Homo sapiens: one gene and its partners. The protein of the gene in region 1 interacts with the protein of each later gene in a pairwise test. Each region holds a gene or a part of one and is shown in the gene's direction. Other genes may lie near its edges.

Region 1 (7,504 bases):
CTCCTGTCACACTAATATGTATAATCTACATTTGGATTCAATACATAGCCCAAATGAGAGGATTTAATTTAGCTGTAAAATATTAATATATATTTTTAAACATTCGAGTTAATGAAAATATGGATAATTTAATATATTTAAAGTTTACATAAAATACATGAAGCATTAGTATTCATGATTTTCCTTTACTGTTTTAGCCCCCCAACCTTTTTTTGGTTTAAAACTCAGGTGGAACTGTTAGTAATGATGAATTTTCATATCGTTGTATGGCACTATTGTGACACAGCCCTTTTTAGTGGAAAAGGAAACATATGAAAGAAATATAGAATATTTGCATCTCATCAGAAGCACTAAAGGAAATATTAATGCAAATACATGCAGAAAAACAAACATAACTAGTATAGTATTATAACATGTAAAGACATGGAGGAATTTCATCCAAATATTATTAAAAGGTTGGGAATTGTTATGCTGTGGATTAGGGGTTGACAGTTACTGTAGCTTCCATGATAATCCTGGGAGGCTGAATTTTTGAAAGCTCTCTGACCCTGCTGAACTAGAAGGGCTAATTTGAGAAGGGTATGGTGTAAAATGTGGCCTTTTATAGGCTGAAAACAGGGATTTGTTAAGTGGTTGTTGAATGAATGCATGCCTTGCATTGTTGGGCAAAGAAGTGAGGGCATTGCTTTTTTCCCCTGGAGTAAGGAATGAAGTAAAAGGTCATTGAGCTTTGTAGAGCACATATATTCACTAAATACTAGGTTGATGAGTTGTTGACTTGAGGATAAAGTTATTATGCCAGCATAGAGGAGGATCTGGGAAAAGCTCTAGGAAGGGTTCTTGGACACTGAGGAAACCTTGAATATCAACAAATGTGCTTTTGGATTTGGCAGAAAGGATAGAGAATAGAGGAATAGTGTGAAAAAATTATCTACTCTTTATTTATTCATCAAATATATTTTTAGGTACTTTGATAGGCCTTGCAATACAAGAATGAAACACCCAGCCCCTCTTTTCAGGGAGAAAACAGTTTAAAAGAAGGTCACTGGACAGTGTAATGAGTGCTGTAATGGAATAGTAACATGTGCAGGTGCTCTGGTCATGCAAAATGCGTCCCCTGACCAGTTAAAATTTTCTTGATCCAGTTTTCCTCACCATTAGTCTATTCTTCCTCCTAATAATTATTTTTAAAAGTAACAATTTTCAGAAGTTAAAATAAACCTAAATGATCATGTAGTTTGTTACTGCTCAAAAGGGGATGGTCCATGGAATAATGGCATAGCATCAGTTAGAGCTTCCTGGAAAATGTGGTCTTCTTAGAAATGGGCTGCATGGGCTGGGCATGGTGGCTCACGCCTGTAATCCTAACACTTTGGGAGGCCAAGGTGGATGGATTGCTTGAGTTTAGGAGTTTGAGACCAGCCTAGGCAGCATGACAAAATCCTGTCTCTACAAAAAATACAAAAAGTAATAGGGTGTGTTGGCGTGTGCCTGTAGGACCAGCTACTTGGGAGTCTGAGGTGGGAGGATGGCTTGAGCTCAGGAGGCTGAGCCTGCAGTGGACGGAGATCGTGCTACTTTACTCCAGCCTAGGTGACACAACGAGACTCTGTCTCAAAAAAGAAAAAAGAAAAGAAAAGAAATGGGCTGCATATCTGACCCACTGTCTCAAAATCTGCATTTTTACCATGCCCACCCGCCCCCCTCCCCAACCTGGTGATTCGTTTTCTCATTGAAACTGGAGAAGCACTAATCTGGTTCACCTACTTCCCATCCAGTTTTACAGATGGAGGAAATGAAGATAGATTGTGCTCCTAAGGTCCTATGCACAGTAGCAGAGCCAGTGTTAGAACTCAGCCAGTCAGCTGGTCATGGTGGCTTCTTACTAGTGCCTCTTTCCTTCTCTCTTTTGGAAATTCTCTGTTGAATGAGAGAACAACAGTGCACCACACTATATATAAAAAAGAATGAACATTTTTATTTACTTATAATTTGTGGCATCAGCAACTCAGGAGGCTGAGGCAGGTGGATCACTTGAGCCCTGGAGGTGGAGGCTGCAGTGAGCCATGTGTGCACCACTGCCCTCTAGTCTGGACAATAGAATGAGACTCCATTTCTTAAAAAAAAAAAAAAAAAAAAAAAAAAAACCCAGTCACCAGTCTACTTACTGGTAGGGTCTTGTGTGCTTTCTCTGATGCCTCTGTTATTTCCTGTTTCTCTTTACTTTTTTACTCTTCTATTGGCCTCTATTAGTGTTTCATATTGTAAGATCTTCAGCTTCTCACTAGTGTCTCTTTCCCTCTCTCCTGTGGTAGTCCTCTCTTTAAATTTCTCTGTTGAATGAAAACGATACAGCATACCACACTGTACATCAAAAAGAATGAGCACTTTTACTTACTCTTAATTTCTGGCAGAGGTTTGGACCTATTTCTTTAATTTTTTTTTTCTACCCGCTACTCAGAACTTTCTTTGAAGTCAGTAGGAATTCTGTGTGTGGTAAGGGTGAGAGATAATCTATGATGTTAGGAATTAAAATCTCCTCACAGATACATTTATCTTCCTTTCTTTGTTACATGGAGTATGGCATTAATCAGAGTACTTTTGCTCTTTGTATAAGTCTCATGGGAAAAACAGCGCCTGCCTTAAAGTTGGTGGAAAAGAACAGGATACCACAGCAACTCCTTCTCTGTGACCTAGAACAGAGAGTTTGTCTAAATGTTTCTTCTCTAATATAGGGGGTTTGTCTAAATCTTTTTTTTTCTATAATATAGAAAAAGAAATACCTAAGTAGATGCACACCTCATGTTTTATAGGGGGCCTTTAGCATAGAAAGATATGGTCATAGAATGATAATGAACATAAAATGATAAAATGCCATTAAGAAAAGTGAACAGTCACTGATAAGACCTTCGTGGCACAACGCCTTTTTAACAAAAGTCAGCCGTGCTATCTTTTAAGTCATTTCCTCCTTGTGAGAAGTTTACCATCTCTCCTGTGGTTCAAATATATTGGTTTATTTTTAACTCTGAAATGTGTTTGATTTGAGTGATATAGCCATAATCTCTATGAATAGTAGACCTCCTTTTAAAACTATGAAATAAAATCAGTTTTTCTGTTTTCCTGGTTCCCATATGTGTTTTTCTTTCAAGTCATTATCACCTTTTTTTCCCATATCTCGAGTCATCAAGCAATAGCTCACCTTCTTAACAACTCTGATTTCATTAAAACCATAGTTGTGTCATTTCCTGACTTTGCAAATTGTTTGATTAAATATTGTGTTTCGTATCTTGTATCTTACTGTCTATTGACAGTATATAGACACAGATTAATTTTTTAAGTAAGGTATTTTAATACCTAGTTCACTAATCCAGAAGCATTTTGCATATACAGGCTTTAGTAAAAATGACAGTTTAAATAGGGAGTTATTATGATCAACAATTAAGTTAAATTCATTTAGGTTGGTTCTAAGAAGTTGAATTTTCTTTTACTACTTTAAAAATACATTATTTCTTCAAAATACGACATAAAATGTTTTGCATTGCCAAGAATAAACTAGAAATTAGATTTGCAACCTTCAACTGTTGTTTAGCTTTTAGAAATATAAAAATTAATATTAATATATTTTTATAATGTGTTAAAAGATGAATTTTTGTTAATCCCATCCATATTTCATTATCATGCTTGTTTCAGAAATGTTTTACTTGTGGCAACATTCCATTATAAAATTGATTTATGGTTGTGTATTTGAATATGCTGGACAATCAATTCATTTTAAGTAAAATAATGTGTTGCATTTTATATATATAGTTACACATATGTAAGTTATGCGATTTACAGCTCTAGAGAAAAACATTCAAGTTAGTTATTCATGGGAATAAAATAGGTGCATGTTCTCAATGAAAAAGTTAGAAAAATGTCTTGAATATGGTGACTGTTTACATTATAGAATTGTAATTAACCCTAACTTAATCTCTCAGTGCCCCTGTACTCTTGTCTTCAGTGTCTCGAGATATTTCAGCAAATGGCTACCATCGCCCCGTACGTACCTCTCCAGTTACATTCTTGCCTGCTTTAGGAGTGGACACACAGAGCAGCCTCCAAGCTGCCCTGATAAATTTCACGTGTATAATATGGAAGACAAATGTTTCCTTAACATATTTATTTTCTGTGTATGAAGTTTTTCATTAACTTTTCATCCCAAGATAACCACCTCTGTTTTTAGTGCGCTTTATTTCTTGTTTTTGTTCTGTAGGGTCTCTGTAAAACATAATGTGTGACATAAGTAATGAAGCATAATTTTCAAAAGCCACTTGCAGGAGTCAGTATTGTTTCTTTGGTTTTTATACCATGTATTTTTTGTTGGGACTCAAAGGACAGTGATCCGTATTTAGTCAAATTAGGAAATTAAGTTGAAACATCTTGATTCCTAAAAAGTGTATTTTATAAAACATTTACTGATTAATGAATTTTATGGTATTTTGTTCTCTCTATAGATAAGCGTGTGGAAAATTGGCCTCTGATGCAGTCTCCTTGGCCTACACTAAGTATAAGCACTCTTTATCTCCTGTTTGTGTGGCTGGGTCCAAAATGGATGAAGGACCGAGAACCTTTTCAGATGCGTCTAGTGCTCATTATCTATAATTTTGGGATGGTTTTGCTTAACCTCTTTATCTTCAGAGAGGTATGTTTTTAAGATCACTTTAATAATTTTCCAAGGTTATTGGAAATTTAAAAATGAGAATGTGTAAAACCATCATTGTAATATTTTACCCAGACATAACTGTTAGCTACTCTAAAAGTACATTTTTGACATTTTTCACTTTTGAATAACAAAAATATTAAACATGAGGTATAGGAAAGTTGTTTAAAGTGGAATTTTGAATAAGACCAACTGGATTCTAAAGTAACCCTTATTAGCTGTTCTGGCATTGAAAGTTATTTAACTTTTCTTAGCCTCGTTTTCCCCACTTAAATACCTACCATCTCAGGTTATTATCGGAGTAAAGTAAGATAATTTTTGCATAGTGTTTGGCACGTATTAAGCACTCAGTAAACAGTAGCAGCTATTTATTTATAATTCTTATTCAGTAGTTTCTGGTTTGGTAACTGATCAAAATATGCCAATTTCAAGTAAATCCTATTACATAATGTTGTATTTTGGGCTGGAATTAAAATGAATTAACTGCCATATAGCTGTTGTTACTAATCATTATATACTTTTCTGGGCACTAGCAAATTCTCCACAACATTTTCAAAGGAAATCCTAAAGGCTAGATTGACACAGCCATTTTTTAAATTGCATATGTATAAAGAATTTGTTTCCTAAGAGACTCATTAAAATTCTGTATGAAGCCAGAGAACTGACTAGTAATGCTAGGAAAATAAACAATAACTCTTCTTAGAAAAAGAAATATTTCTTTACTTGAAAACTTAGCCTCGAGTCTCAACTTCATGAACACTTTAATTTATTTGGATACCTGTACCTAATTTGTTAGATGCAAACCACTCTGGATCAAACATAGAAACCAGTTAAGGTAGGACAACTTTGAAATCTGAGTCCTAGCAATAAAAATTTCTCTTAATACTGTGAAGTATTTAATAGATAGAGTCAATGTTCAGTATAAAATTTACATGTGATTTTTAATTTAGATTTTAATTATAGAACAAATTAATGCACAGTAACTTCTAGCAATCGGAATGCATGAAATTTTTAATGCATTTGAAATTTTTAAAGAAAATATTGTGTTTAAAATAATTTGAAAGGCTACATTTTGTATATAATTGTGTTTTTAATGCTGTGTTTACTAAAACTTTACTACAAATATTATTACTCTTTTTCCAGTTATTCATGGGATCATATAATGCGGGATATAGCTATATTTGCCAGAGTGTGGATTATTCTAATAATGTTCATGAAGTCAGGGTAAGTACATTAAAAATACTCTTAATCAGTAAAAGTGGTTTGATTTTTATAGGCCCCAGTCTGTGAAAATATAGAATGTACTTTTTTTTAAGAGACAGTTTCTTTAACATTCATTTAGAGACAGTTTCTTGCTCTGTCCCCCAGACTGAAGTGCAGTGGTATGATCATAGCTCACTGCAGCCTCAAACTCCTGGGCTCAATTGATCCTTCTGCCTCAGCCTCCCAAGTAGCTGGGACTACGGGTGTACCCCACCATGCCTAGATATTTTTTTACTTTTTGTAGAGACAGGGTCTTGCTATGTTGCCCAGTCTGGTCTTGAACTCCCAGCCGCAAGGGATCCTCTTGCCTCAGCCTCCCAAAGTGCTGAGATTACAGGTGTGAGCCACCACACCTGGCAAAATGTACTTTAATATGATAGTGAAATTATACTAGATTGTTATGAGTCAGTAAAACTATGCTTTTTTAAAAAGTACTTAATTTAAAATTTGTTTTTGTATCTCAAAAATGTTTTTTATTTTGCAGCATGAGTGAATATGCATTGAATTACTAGAATGCAGTACTTGTTAAAGCAAAGAAGTCTCATGTTTATTTTAAAGACATTATTTTAGATTTTTGTTTGTTTGTTTTTGCTCAAGAGTAGAAACTCTTAGAGTCCAAGTTATGTGTTAAGAAAGTGAGGAAAAGTAAATGTTTTGTGAAGTGTGGAATATTTAGGAAATTAGGCATAGAACAATTTGTATTGGCATAAACTCAGTTTTTTTATATTTGCAGAAAAATAAAACACTAGTAACAAGATGTTATATTTTATTTTCCATTCACTTACATGAGTAAAATTAACATTAAGCAAAAGAAACAACAGATTACCTTATTCTATTACGTATTTATTGAACTCTTCTTATATACTGTGGTTCATACTAGAAATTACATATAAAACATAACATGTTTTATGTTACCTATAGTATATGTAGTAATAATATCTAGTGGCTTCCCTTGAGAAAAATAGTTTCCTGGCATGGGGAGTGGACAATATATAAATATCAGTATTCATCAAGACTGGAGACAAAATTGGTTTAATGTACTTAACAATTTTATGTACGTATCTTCATTTCCCTATTAGAAGACTTATGGACTGATGAAAAATCACCTGTCTTGGTTGTCATGTTGGTTTTATTTATTCATTAAATATGTATTGAGCATCTACTATATGTTGGTACTGGGGACAGGGGTGAAAAGCCCTGCCTTTGTGGGGCTGGCATTTTAGTGAGGGTGAGAAGGCAGACAGCAGCCATGTAAACAAATGACTAAGGAGGAAATAAAACCTAGAAGGTGACTGAGAGAAAATGAGAGACTACTCAGATGTATTGGCTATGAAAAATTTTCTTCTGATAACTATTGCCAAAGAATCTCTTCAGTTGGAGGGCTGACTTCTTGCTTGCCGTAGGGAAGGGAACAGGGATAAGTGTTTGACTGACTGACTTCTGGGAGTATGCATAGAAAAACCCTTGGGTGGGGCAACATATTACTATTTTTAGGATAAAGGTTTAAAAATACCACTCTCACTTACAGATGTAAATTTTCAA
Region 2 (7,504 bases), on another chromosome or scaffold:
ACTTTGGTTTTCAGCTCCATCAGGTCATTTAAGCTCTTCTCTACACTGGTTATTCTAGTTAGCCATTTGTCCAACCTTTTCTCAAGGTTTTAAGTTTCCTTGCGATCGGTCAGAACGTGCTGCTTTAGCTTGGAGAAGTTTGTTATTACCAACCTTCTGAAGCCTACTTCTGTCAACTCGTTAAACTCATTGTCCATCCAGTTTTGTTCCTTTGCTGGTGAGGAGTTACGTTCCTTTGGAGGAGAAGAGGCGTTCTGTTTTTGGAATTTTCAGCCTTTCTGCTGTGGTTTCTCCCCATCTTTGTGGTTTTATCTACCTTTGGTCTTTGATTTTGGTGACGTACAGATGGGTTTTGGTGTGGGTGTCCTTTTTGTTGATATTGATCCTATTCCTTTGTTTGTTAGTTTTCCTTCTAACAGAGGCCCGTCAGCTGCAGGTCTGTTGGAGTTGCTGGAGGTCCACTCTAGACCCTGTTTACCTGGGTATCACCAGTGGAGGCTGCAGAACAGCAAATATCGCGGCCTGATCCTTCCTCTGGAAGCTTCGTCCAAGAAGGACACCCACCTATATGAGGTGTCTGTCGGCCCCTACTGGGAGGTGTCTCCTCCCAGTCAGGCTACATGGGGCTCAGGGACCCACTTGAGGAGGCAGTCTGTCCGTTACTGGAGTTCAAATGCCGAGCTGGGAGAACCACTGCTCTCTTCAGAGCTGTCAGGCAGGGATGTTTAAATCTGCAGAAGCCGTCTGCTGCCTTTTGTTTAGATATGCCCTGCCCCCAGAGATGCAATCTAGAGAGGCAGTAGGCCTTGCTGAGCTGCGGTGGGCTCCACCCAGTTCAAGCTTCCTTGCTGCTTTGTTTACACTGTGAGCATAGAAGTGCGTACTGAAGCCTCAGCAATGGCGGGGAGGCGCTTCCCCTCACCAAGCTCCAGCATCCCAGCTTGATCTCAGACTGCTTGGCTAGCAGCAAGCAAGGTTCCATGGGCATGGGACCCCCCGAGCCAGGCACTGGAGGCAATCACCTGCTCTGCCAGTTGCGAAGACTGGGAAAAGCACAGTATTTGGGCAGAGTATACTGTTCCTCCAGGTACAGTCACTCACGCCTTTCCTTGGCTAGGAAAGGGAAATCCCCTGACCCCTTGCACTTCCTGGATGAGGTGACGTCCTGCCCTGCTTTGGCTCACCCTCCATGGGCTGCACCCACTGTCCAACCAGTGCCAGTGAGATGAACCAGGTACCTCAGTTGGAAATGCAGAAATCACCCATCTTCTGCATCGATCTTGCTGGGAGCTGTAGACCAGAGCTGTTCCTACTGGGACATCTTGGAAGCAACTCTGGGTCTGAGTTTCTGTTTGTTGCCCTGATGTATATCCCCAGTGCCTAGAATGATACTTGTTACATAGGAAGTGCTTGATCCATGTTTGCACAAATGAATCTTTCTCATAATGAGGTTTCTCTAAACAAGCTGTTCTCCCAAAAACTTAAACCCAGCTTTATGTTGAAGCATCTCATTATACATTGGAAAGATGAAATGTGTAGTGAGACTTTGAATCTTCTTTTGAATCTAGAAACATTAGCATTTTTAGACCATTCTATTTTAATATTTATGAAATTTATGAAATAATAAGAAACATGAGGCCGGGCTCAGTGGCTTATGCCTGTAATCCCAGCAGTTTGGGAGGCCAGGGCTAGTGGATCATGAGGTCAGGAATTTGAGACCAGCTTGGCCAACATGGTGAAACCCCACTTCTACTAAAAATATAAAAATTAGCTGGGCGTGGTGGTGCATGCCTGTAATGCCAGCTCCTGGAGAGGCTGAGGCAGGAGAATCATTTGAACCTGGGAGGCGGAGTTTGCAGTGAGCTGAGATCGTGCCATTGCACTCCAGCCTGGGCAACATTGCGAGACTCCATCTCAAAAACAAAAACAAAAACAAAAAAAATGTGTGACCTAAATTAGGCTTATAGATGAACCATTGCAGTCATGATTAATTCCGCCATTGTTTGCCTTGTGATCTTTGGTGCCATGTCTGTACATATTTCATGATTTCTGTGTTTTTACGGTTTCCATTTCAGATCTCCCTTGAGTTTAGAAATCTGGCTGAGAAATACCAAACAGTGATTGCCGACATTTGCCGGAGAATGGGCATTGGGATGGCAGAGTTTTTGGATAAGCATGTGACCTCTGAACAGGAGTGGGACAAGGTTAGTCTCATAAAACAGTGTCTGTGTGTGATGTATTAGACAGAGCTGGCAGTCCTCATAGTGAAGCTCAGAACAAGAAAAGTTGTCCAGTATTTTCAGCCCCTCTGGTTTTACAATTCATCTGTTTAGGTTGAATGTCTCATCATAAACAGTTTATTCCAGAGTTAATTCCAAACCAGCAGCTATGTAGGATATCAGCCAGGCTAGGAGTAGGGTACTGGAGAGAAGTGCTTATCTAGACAAAGGGATGTAATTGACCATGAAGATTAAAACTACACATCAAAACATAAGGTAGGGTTAGGAGTCTTGCCTATTTTTCATAGGAATGGTGTTTGTGAGACTTACTCATCACTTCTGTGGAAGTAAAGACATTTTATTTATTTATTTTAAAGCCAGTCAGATTTAGCAGGCAGAGACATTTCAGACATCTAAAGTGTTGATGTATTTCATACCTTTAACTGTGCTTAAATTAGGATCTCCGAAAAGATGCTGCTACATGGTCACTACGTTAGTGTAGGTCCAAGGTCTTGGGCCTCTTAATTTTTCAAACCTCAAAACTTGACAGCAGTTATCTTTGGAACTGCTGATTTGTGCTTCCTAAGTTAACAGCATACAATGACTGCTAGAAATCAATTTCTGCATTTAAGGTGAAGTTAGCCGGGTACTATGGTTTACCTGTAATCTCAGCACTTTGGGAGGCTGAGGTGGGAGGATCATTTGAGCCCAGGAGTTAGACACAAGCCTAAGCAACATAGCGAGACCCCGTCTTTCAAAAAATTAAAAAATGAGCAGGGAATTGGTGGCATGTGCCTGTGGTCCCAGCTACTCTGGAGGCTGAGGTGTGGGAGGATTGCTTGAGCCCAAGAGTTGAAGGTTGCAGTGAGCCATGATTGTGCCACTGCACTCCAACGTGGGTGACAGAGCAAGACACCATCTGAAAGAAAATAAAGTTGAAGTTAAAACTTCTGGCCAAGAACCAGCACTGGTTATGATAGTAACTCATTTTCTGTTGTGCAGATTTATTCAGGAAACTTAATTTTAGGTTGTTGAATAGAAGTTTTGATCAGATAAAATTGAATTAAAAAAAATTTTTTTTGAGACAGGGTCTTGCTGTTATCCAGGCTGGTGTGTAGTGGTGTGATCACGGCTCCCCGCAGCCTCAACCTCCTGGGCTCAGGTGATCCTCCCACCTCAGCCTACCGAGTAGCTGTAACTACAGTGCATGACACCATACCAGGCTCATTTTTGTACATTTTTTGTAGAGAGAGGGTTTTGCCATGTTGCCCAGGCTAGTCTCAAACTCCTGGCATCAAACAGTCCTCCCACTCTGGCCTCTCAAATGTTGGGATTACAGGCATGACCAGCCAATTATTTCAAGGAGTTATTTTTTTTCTTCTACTTTGGGGGAAGATGAATTATATAAGTCTCCATTTTAGGAGTATTTCTACCAAAAGAACTATTATCTTCAAATATATTTTTGGATAGTACTATAGATATACTAATTTTTTTTTAAATTTCTAGTAATTCTTTTGAAGATTTTGTATAGCTGTCCAAAGCCAATTTCTGTCTACCTAATTTCAGCAAGATTTCACTCTTTTCATGTTACTTTTGTCCCAGAACAAATTTCAAGTGCTTTCTCTTCACCTGTGCATTCTTCCCCCTGATTAGTCTCTGGCTTTGTATTACTTTCAGTCAGAGACGACTTTTTTTTTTTGAGACAGGGTCTCACTCTGTCACCCAGACTGGAATGCAGTGGCACAGACAAGGCAGCCTTGACCTTCTGGGCTCAAGCAATCTTCCTTGCCCTCAGCCTCCTGAGTAACTGGGACCACAGGCACGTTGCCACCATGCCTGGCTAATTTATTTTAATTTTTATTATTTTTGAGACAGGGTATTGCTCTGTCACCCAGGCTGGAGTGTAGTGGCATGATCAAGGCTCACTGCAGCCTTCACCTCCTGTGCTCAAGCAGTCCTCTCACCTCAGCCTCCCCATTAGCTGGGACTATAGGTCCACACCACTACACCAGGCTAATTTTTGTAATTTTTTGGTAGAGACAGGGTTTCATCGTGTTGCCTAGGCTGGTCTTGAGCTCCTGGGCTCAAGCGATTCACCTGCCTTAGCCTCCCAGGTGTGAGCCACTACACTCAGCCTTTTAAAATTTTTTACAGAGATGAGGTCTTGCTTTGTTGGCCAGGCTGGTCTAAAACTCTTGGGCTCAAGCAGTCCCCTCTCCACAGCCTCCCAAAATTCCGGGATTACAGGCGTGAACTTCGGTCATTTCCTAACTTTTACCCTTCCTAATGACACTCCAGAGCTTACCTTCTTTACTTTTGCTTCTTAAGTTAACTAATAGACAATTATTGTATGTGGATATTGCATTAAGTTGTCTTAGGATACCCTTTTCAGAGGAGGACAGCTTTTGACAAATTGCTGTCGCGGAAAAAAAAAGTATTTGGCAATTAAGAGTTGCATTTACTGAAATCTCTGTTGAGAGAGGGGAAGTTACGTTGTCTCTAAAAGAAAAACTAAAAAGAAAAGGGGAAGTTTTAGCAAAGTTGTTAAAGCCTGACACTTAAGTCATACTACCTAGTTTTGAACTCTTAGCCCCTGCCACAGACACGGCAGCCCCTTGAACCTTCCTGGGTTCAAGCGAGCCTCCTACTTCAGCCCCCTGAGTAACTGGGACCACTGGCCTGTGTCACTGTGCCTGGCTAATTTTTTTTTTTTCTCACATGGGCAATGTTGGGCAAGTTAAATCGACTTCTTTGTGCCTCAGTTTCCTCATCTGAAATGGAGATCATACTGCTATGTACCTGATACAATGTTTGTGAGGATTGAATGTGCAGAGTTCTTTTTTTCTGTTGTTGTTGTTTTGAGACGGAGTCTCACTCTGTCGCCCAGGCTGGAGTGCAGTGGCGCGATCTCGGCTCCCTGCAAGCTCCACCTCCTGGGTTCACGCCATTCTCCTGCCTTAGCCTTCTGAGTAGCTGGGACTACAGGCACCCGCCACCAGGCCAGCTAATTTTTTTGTATTTTTAGTAGAGACGGGGTTTCACCGTCTTAGCCAGGATGGTCTTGATCTCCTGATCTCGTGATCCGCCCGTCTCAGCTTCCCAAAGTGCTGGGATTACAGGCATGAGCCATCGTGCCCGGCTGAATGTGCAGAGTTCTTAAAACCGTGTCAAGAACATAAAATAGTTATTTGTTCTTTCATATAATGATGATTTTGAGGGCCTGCGGATCTTGACATGTTATCAGATTGGTCAAAAAAAGATTAAACCATAGTTGGTATTGTCCTAGTTCCTGTTACCAGAATATTCCATCTTTCATCGTTGCCTTCTCTCATAGTTTTATGTATCAAAAAGTTTATTGTAAAGCTAGGGCGGGCACGGTGTCTTGGGCTGGTAATCCCAGCACTTTGGGAGGCCAAGGCTGGCAGATCAGTTGAGGTCAGGAGTTCGAGACCAGCGTGGCCAACATGGTGAAACCCCGTCTCTACTAAAAATAAAAAATTAGCTGGATGTGGTGGTGGGTGCTTTAATTCCAGCTACTCAGGAAGCTGAGGCAGGAGAATCACTTGAACCCAAGAGGCAGAGGTTGCAGTGAGTTGAGATTGTGCCAGTGCACTCCAGCCCAGGGGACAAAGTGAGACTTGATCTCAAAAAAAAAAAAAAAAAAAAAGTTATTGTAAAGCTAGACACGGTGGTATTTGCCTACAATCCCAGCTGTTCGGGAAGCTGAGGCAGAAAGATTGCTTGGGTCCAGTAGTTTGAGTCTAACGTGGGCAAATATATGAGACTCCATCTCAAAAAAAAAATAAAAAATAAAAATAAAAAAATGTTTACTAGTTTTTTTCAGTAGCCTTTTATTATAGTAGCAGTACATGTGTATTGTAGAAATTTGGAAAATACAAGTGAAAAATAAAAACATCAAATTCCCGTCAGCCAGAGACTGCTATGAAATGTTTTGAGCACATCCTTCTTGAATGTTTTTTAAATCCTGGTATGTATATTTGTATTTTAAAATCAAAATGCATTCTTACCCATTCTCTTTTGAACCTGCTTTTTTGTAGCTAATGATCTCTAGTGTGTCCATTTCAGTAAAAATTCCATTATTAAAGTGCTTTAAAAATCGTCTCTTACAGTACTGCCACTATGTTGCTGGGCTGGTCGGAATTGGCCTTTCCCGTCTTTTCTCAGCCTCAGAGTTTGAAGACCCCTTAGTTGGTGAAGATACAGAACGTGCCAACTCTATGGGCCTGTTTTTGCAGAAAACAAACATCATCCGTGACTATCTGGAAGACCAGCAAGGAGGAAGAGAGTTCTGGCCTCAAGAGGTAACAGATTCAGGGTATTTTGGGGGAAAATAACTTTAGACATTCTCTGAAAAATCCTTTAACTCTTGTGGTTGCGGGTGACAGAAAAACAAGTCAGGCCTCCCCCAGGCAGCATAAGGGGATGTGGAAAATAGGATAGCTTGACATGAGTTTGCTTCAGGTAGACTGGCTGACTCCCAGGATTCACACCACGTAATCAGTATATTCAAGCCTTGCTGTCCTTGATTTCTTTCAGACGGTCTTTCTCCAAGTGGTGGATATGGTAACAACCCATGTGCACTAGCTTAACAAAAAGTTCTTAGGAATGGCTTTGTTCGGCCTGGCGCAGTGGCTCATGCCTGTAATCCCAACAGTTTGAGAGGCCAAGGTGGGCGGATCACCTGAGGCCAGGAGTTCGAGACCAGCCTGGCCAACATCGTGAAACCCCGTGTTTACTAAAAAATACAAAAATTAGCCGGGCGTGGTGGCAAGGGCTTGTAATCCCAGCTACCTGGGAGGCTGAGGCAGGAGAATCGCTTGAACCCAGGAAGCAGAGATTGCGGTGAGCTCAGATTGTGCCACTGCACTCCAGCCTGGGCGACAGAGTGAGACTCCCTCTCAAAAGAAGAGGAAGGGCTTGGTTCTTCTGCTCAGCCCTGAATCAGTTACTGTTGCTACACAGCTGAGTTCTCTGGCCTCGCCTGGATTACGTCTACACAGTACACACAGAATGGATTTCCCCCAAAGAAAGAATTCTGCAGCAGGAAGGGGAAAGGGATGGCAGGTAGACAAAAACTCCAGGTGTCTGTAATAAGGGACAGGGTCGATCTTTAATTAAAACATGGACAGGGAACAGAAAGCTTTTGATACTGATTTTGTTCAGAAGGAAAGTAGAAAATTTTATGACTGTTCCCTGAATTTATTCCAGCATTTACCTTTTGCTTTCCATAAAAGTGTTTCCTGCAGCCAAGTACTTTAAAGTTT
Region 3 (6,441 bases), on another chromosome or scaffold:
TCTTACAGGTCAGGAAGGTGGATTGGGGCATGGAGCAAGGATAGGCCCCAGCCCTCCTGATTAGAAAGCTTCATGGCCTGGCTGGACAGGAGGGGGCTGTGTACAGTGGGAGGAGGCCAGGGCAGGTATGTCTGGTGGTGGGCGCAGCAGAGACAGGCTGGGTCACGGGGGACAGATGGGGACAGGGCCTGAGTGGGGCTCCCCACTGCCCTGCTCAGAGGGTACCGTCAAGGGTGGCAGCTCACCCCTGCTGGGCTGGCCTGGGTACTGAGCCCTGCCTTCTCAGGGGCTGGAGGCCTGCCACTCCTCGGCTGATTCCCGCAGATGCCACCCGGCTCAGCTGGGCCTGGTACCCAGAAGCCCTGCCGCGGCCTCCAGATGCAGGGAGGTGCCTACCTGCCAGTCTGTCTTGGGTGTGTCATTTGTCCATTTCTTTGGACATGTTCAGGCAGTCAGTGAGCCTAGACCCTGGTGCCTGCCAGGCGGTGGGCGCACTCAGGCCTTTTACCTGCCCAGCCCCCAGAAGCCTGAGGCAGCACGCCAGGGGCCTGGGGCCTTCCATGGGGACTGCAAGGCTGCAGACCCCTGCCTTTCTGGCTGCGACATGGGAGGCCTGGCTGGGTCACTTCCCCTCCTCTCAGGGTGGTCTTCAAGGTTTGCGGGAGGCTAGAGAGACATCAGTGCTACAGTGCAGCCTTGGGCCCCTCGGGAGGGAAGCCTCCCCCAGTTGGGGGCCAATGGGCCTTCCACCCATGGGGCCTCCTGCCAGAGGTCTTTTCTGGAAAGGGGTTCTGCCTTGGGCCAGCCCTGGGGAATGTGGCAGGTCAGGTGAAAGGTCAGCAAGCTGTCTCAGAGCTGAGCCTTGCAACTGACCTCTCCAGGCTTGAGAGAGGCCCAGAAGCCAGGGACCTGCTAACATTTTATTGTGGAAAGATGTGAAGTTTACAGAAAAGTTGCACAAATACTCCAATGAACTCCAGGAGTCCATCCACCTAGTCTTGCCAACTGCCAACATTTTGCTACATTGCTGAATCCTCTATCTGAATGCTGAAATCATTTGAGAGTAAGTTGCAGAAGTCATGTTCCTTTGCCCCTAAATTCTTCCTAAGAACAAGGACATTCTCTTAACACACCAGAGTCAGCTATCAAAACCAGGAAGTGAGCACTGAGGCAGTCCTAAGCCACACCCTGTTCAAACTTCACCAACGGACCTGAGTCTCCGATCACAGGCCTGTCCCTCCCCGTCCAGGAACATTGAGCTGTCTCCTTAGTCTCTGATCTGGAACCTTTCGGCCTTTCTTTGTTTTTCCTAACTTTGACATTTGGGAAGGCCCATTTACTTTAAGACTGACCCTGAGTCTGGGTTGGCTGATGTTTCTGCGTGGTTTGCCCTAGATGGACACAACTGGCCAGAAAACCCTGGAAGGACCTCTGTGTCTTCTCGAGCATCCGCCTCTCTGGGTGCTGGTGAACCTATGAGGAGGGCAAGTGTCTGGCTTGACTCTTGCCCCAGCGCTCAGGGATGGAACCCGCAGGGACAAAAGGTGCCCTAGGGTCGCCGGCTGGCCGGCAGGGTCTGTTCACAGAACGGCAGCCTCCCTGCACTGTTTCTGGGCAGCACAACCGCTCCTGCAACTGTCCAAGGCCTTCAGCCCACCTGTGCTCACCACCACGGCACCTTATCCCCAAGCCTTGGCTTTCTTGTCTCTGAAATGGGGATAAAAGCAGTTCCCACACCACAGAGTAGCTGGAGTCAAAGAGATGAGGTGTTGGGACATCCCCAAGCTCATCCAGGGAACCGGCTTGAGGGTCGAGTGTCCCTGGATCACAGTCTCTATCCCAGTTGAGATTAGAGCATGGGGCCGGCCGCAGTGGCTCACACCTGTAATCGCAGCACTTTGGGAGGCCGACACGGGTGTATCACCTGAGGTCAGGAGTTCAAAATCAGCCTGGCCAACATGGCAAACCCCGTCTCAACTAAAAATACAAAAATTAGCTGGGTGTAGTGGCAGGTGCCTGTAGTCCCAGCTACTCCGCAGGCTGAGGCAGGAGAATCGCTTGCTTGAACCCGGGAGGCGGAGGCTGCAGTGAGCCGAGATTGTACCACTTCACTCCAGCCTGGGCACAGAGCAAGACTCTGTTTCAAAAAGAGAGAGAGAGAGATTAGGACATGGGCAGGCCTGCCCTGCTAACACTGTGATGTCAGATGGTCTGGCTGGGCTGGAGAGGCCAAGAGCCGACCTACCATCCCCATGTTGAGCTTTCCAGCGTTTCTGGGGCATCCTGTCTGGTTGCCGGGGATGGATGGCCCAGGGTTGGAGTGGTGGTCAGGGGAGGACAACTGGGGTGGGCTGGCTGGTGAGGATACAGGGCGGGGGTTATCATGCAGGCGTCTCAGCCTGTGCTTTCTGTGGGACTGAGAATGTCTCCTTTCTGCTCTCTGGTCCCTGGGTACCCCAAATCCTGCCAACTCCCAACCCTATAAGCAGAGAAGGGCTTTGTGGGGGGCACCTCCCTTACACTGAACAGACACTCCTCCTGCCCACCCACCGGCCCTGCCCAATGGGAGGCAGCAACGCACTGGCTTCAGCTTCTTAGCCTGGGAAATGTGAGGGCTAGTGCAGCGCTGAGCCCAGACCCCTCACACAGCGCTACCGGCAACTTGCTTAACCTAGAGGTGGGGGGTGACGTCCCTGTCGGCCCCGTCACCTGGGGCCCCAGCACCTCTCCTTGGCTTTGCAGACGATGTTCCACAGGAGCCCGTGCCCACGCTGTGGAACGAGCCGGCCGAGCTGCCGTCGGGAGAAGGCCCCGTGGAGAGCACCAGCCCCGGCCGGGAGCCCGTGGACACCGGTCCCCCAGCCCCCACCGTCGCGCCAGGACCCGAGGACAGCACCGCGCAGGAGCGGCTGGACCAGGGCGGCGGTACGGGCGGGGCGGGGGAGGGAGGGGAGAGGGAGAAATTAGGAGGGGCGGGGGGCGGGGGGCGCGGGGAGAAGGGCCGGCCAGGCGGGGGCTAGCAGGTGACATGGTCCTCCGTCCTCCGCAGGGTCGCTGGGGCCCGGCGCTATCGCGGCCATCGTGATCGCCGCCCTGCTGGCCACCTGCGTGGTGCTGGCGCTCGTGGTCGTCGCGCTGAGAAAGTTTTCTGCCTCCTGAAGCGAATAAAGGGGCCGCGCCCGGCCGCGGCGCGACTCGGCTGCACTCCTCACGCGCCTGTATGTCCGCGCGTGCGTGTCCGCGCATGCAGGTGTGCCAGAGCGTGAGCGCGCGCAGGCGAGCGCTCAGGGCGGGGGTGCGCGCGGGGCCGAGGGTGGGTGCCGTGCACGCGCGCGGGTCCGGAGGCGCGCCCGAATTCCCCGCAGGGGCGCCGGGGCGTGCGTGAGCGCACAGCATGTCCGAGCCCGCCTGCGTGTGGCGTGCACCTGAGCGCGCGCAGGGCCGCGCGGCTCGGCGTCCCCGTGCACCACGGCTGGAGTGCCTCAGGAGCGCGCCGCATGTGCGTGCCCGGTGCGCGTGCGCCGGGGCCGCCAGGGCATCGGAGCGGGTGTGCGGCCAGCGGTCTTAGCCCGTCCGGGGGCACCGTCACGGTCAGGGCCACGCCACGGGCGGCCCCTTCTCCCGGCGCCGCCTCCTCTGCCTGGGCGCGGGCCGAGGCCCTCGCCGCGCTCCCCGGGGCCTGCCTCCCATCCCGCTCCGCTGGGGTTCAGAGCGTTCCGTGAGGAGGTAAGCGCTAGGGCAGGAGAGGCCGACAGAGACCCCGGGGCCCGCCGCTCCTTGAGGCCGGGGTTGGGGAGGGCAGGGGCCGTCGGCTCTCCCAGCCAGAGGCCGCGTGGTTTTGGGGGACGTCTTGACTCTGAGTCCTGCAGCCAGGGCCCCATCCGCGGGCTCAGACCAGCAGCCCCAAGCCCCCCTCTGCCCAGGGAGCCTCAGGAGCAGGATGAGTCGAGAGTCGACGCCGGACACGGCCCGCCCCTGCTTCCTACTCTCACCCCCAGGCCTGGCTGGGGGCCGGCAGCCCCCACGCCCACGGTTGGTTTGTTCAGGGAGAGAAAACGGCTTTCCCAGCTCTACTCACCTCACTTCACCCTCAGAGAGTCGGGGCGGAGTGAGGGTGAGGAGCCTGGTCCAGGGTCCCCACCTCGGAAGCATTTAGAGATGTAAACTTTGATCCTTTGATCATTTAACCTGCTCAGCACAGCAGGAAGTGGGAACTTGGTCCCTACCCCAGTCCCCAGGGCCTTTGGAGGGAAGGGTTGGACAGTTTGGAGGCCAGCAGACCCCTTGGGGACAGCTTAATGTATCTGAAGATTCCTGAGTGGGAATGTTGCTGGAGGGCAAGCTGCTTCTCTTTTTTAAAAATTCATTTTCTCTAGCAGCTGTTTTGGCCCCTTTGGTGTCCCTGAGCTCCCCATGGCACTGTTTCCTGCCGTGACTTTCTCCTCCTGGACACTGGAGCCCAGGTGGTGCCCGCGCACCTCTCACACACTGGGGGATAGGGTCAAGGCCTCATCCAAGTCTGTTAACAGCTTCCCACTCAACCAGTCTCCCCAAAATACACTGTGAGTTCAATGATTCTGCTTATAAAGGAGTGCTATGAAACTGACCTATTTTCCTAATTGGTTAACTGACTTCATCTCACATAACCTTGAGTAACCAAAGCCTTCATCAGAGCGGACGATCCAACCCAACATGCTGTTTCCCATCCTCAAAAGGCACGGGGACCAATGGCCACCCAACTCCTTCCCAACCCTCCCCTCCAGGGACGAGAGATGGCCCCCTCTTTCCCTTTCCCCACTCTGCAAGCACTCCCCCACCAACGGGTGCATCACAGCCCCTCACTGGGACCAGGGGGCCTCCCTCTCCGGTGGAACCAGTGTCACATGCCTGTGCATCTCTGTGATTCTCAGAGGGTCTGAGGTCCGAGCACCCTGCTGTGGCCTGTGGGAAGACGCTACAAAGTCCCACTGGATCTAAACCAGAGGCCTGTTCTGGCGAGCAGGGAAACTGTGTCCTGGCAGAGATCGTGGTCCTGGGCACACAGGACCCCTCAGCACACTGAGGTGGAGCTGGGGCGAGGGGAGGGGGTGCGCTCTGGGTAACTGAAGGTGTGAAGGGCCCAGGGCCTGTTTCTGGGCAGTGCAGGAAGTCCCAGCCCCATGCCTGTGGTGAGATCCCCTGTAGGGCCCCCCCCACCATGGACACTTCGGGGCCTCTACGGTCTTCCAAAGCTGTGTCCTCATTTCCACTGCAGCAGAGGGGCGTCCCCAGCTCCGTCAAACAGCCCTTTCTGTTTCTGGAGTCCTACAAGTGGAGGCCCAAATCCGTTCCCATGTTGAGGCAAGGCCCTGGCTGTTCCTTCCTCTCTGGAAACCGCCTTGAACTCTTCCTTTGGGACATGCCTCCTCGACCAGCCTTGAAGGGGTGCTCCTCTCTCACTACCTGGAACCAAACACCCCCTTCCTTTGTGTACAAGGGCAATAAAGAGTAGACCTTCATCTTCTTTATTTTATATATGATGCTTCTTTTAATGCAGCCAAAAGTGATATTTGCTTTTCTCAGAACCATAATCGATACAAGATGCAGTGACCAATTCATTCCTTAAAACACCTGGGCTCCTTAAGGGGCTAGAAGACACAAGTTACATCCAGCCCATCAGGGAGCCAGAGGCGGGAGGGGTCCCCAGCCAAGCTCTGGCAGGCCTGCCATGGGGCAGGGCCTGACCGTGCAGCCAGAGGCTGGCAGAGGCCTGGGGAAGGGTGGGCAGAGGCAGCTGGGCTCTCAGTCCTGGAACCGGAGACCAAGGGCTGCTCATCAAGCTCCGTCAGGCAAGGGCGGCCTCATCTGTGCCTGGTAGATTCTAACTGCTTCCAAGGTAGAGGAGGACGCGTGCAGGAAATCGTGTCAATTGTCACCTTCTGCCTGCCTCCCACAGGGACACTCTGGGTTGGGAGCCTCTTCCAGTCCCTGGGGGCCAGGGGCATGGGGGGCCCTGGAGTGTGCCCACCCCCTTCCACCCCCTCGGAGGCATGAGGGAGGTGGTGTAATACTGCTGAAACCTTCTTGTTTACAAATGCATCAGGAGAGGCTTGGGCACCCTTTATCCAGTTTGCGAGCAAGGGGCCAAGACACATGAGCACTCACTGCGTGGGCAGGGATGAGGGCCGGGCACCCCAAGCCAGATCCTGCCACCTGGGGAGGTGCTGGCCTGTGCTTCCCAGAGCCCCCCCCCCCCCACCTTCTGTCGGGGTCTCATGCAGGCCCTGCTCCCGCTGGCCCCCTGGGTGGGGGTCATTGCCGATTCCGGCTGCCCAGCTTCCTGCGGTCCTTGTTCTGGCTGCGCTGAGGGTCATCCATCTTGTGGACACGGAAACATTCCTTGAGGTTCTGGGACCGGATCTTGGGATTCAAGATCTCCTCAGTCATGGAGCTGGGGAACCA

The links. Proteins that work in one complex are often made in the same cells at the same time.
Region 2: the proteins of ELOVL4 (region 1) and FDFT1 interact in binary tests that used the Homo sapiens proteins (3 or more experiments, as listed by UniProt).
Region 3: the proteins of ELOVL4 (region 1) and SNORC interact in binary tests that used the Homo sapiens proteins (3 or more experiments, as listed by UniProt).

Annotation. Positions count from the first base shown.
Region 1 is NC_000006.12:79,923,371-79,930,874, reverse strand, and holds part of ELOVL4 (very long chain fatty acid elongase 4), read left to right. Parts: intron 1-4,493; coding exon 4,494-4,681; intron 4,682-5,842; coding exon 5,843-5,923; intron 5,924-7,504. UniProt on the Homo sapiens protein: Catalyzes the first and rate-limiting reaction of the four reactions that constitute the long-chain fatty acids elongation cycle.
Region 2 is NC_000008.11:11,819,675-11,827,178, forward strand, and holds part of FDFT1 (squalene synthase), read left to right. Parts: intron 1-2,075; coding exon 2,076-2,204; intron 2,205-6,349; coding exon 6,350-6,541; intron 6,542-7,504. UniProt on the Homo sapiens protein: Catalyzes the condensation of 2 farnesyl pyrophosphate (FPP) moieties to form squalene. Proceeds in two distinct steps.
Region 3 is NC_000002.12:232,873,198-232,879,638, forward strand, and holds the end of SNORC (protein SNORC isoform c precursor), read left to right. Parts: intron 1-2,257; exon of another isoform or gene 2,258-2,300; coding exon of another isoform or gene 2,301-2,358; intron 2,359-2,396; exon of another isoform or gene 2,397-2,608; intron 2,609-2,634; exon of another isoform or gene 2,635-2,742; coding exon 2,743-2,925; intron 2,926-3,049; coding exon 3,050-3,159; 3' UTR 3,160-5,503; downstream 5,504-6,441. Other genes in the region: NGEF (ephexin-1), read right to left, coding at 6,292-6,441. UniProt on the Homo sapiens protein: Plays a role in the regulation of chondrocyte maturation and postnatal endochondral ossification. May inhibit cell growth stimulation induced by FGF2.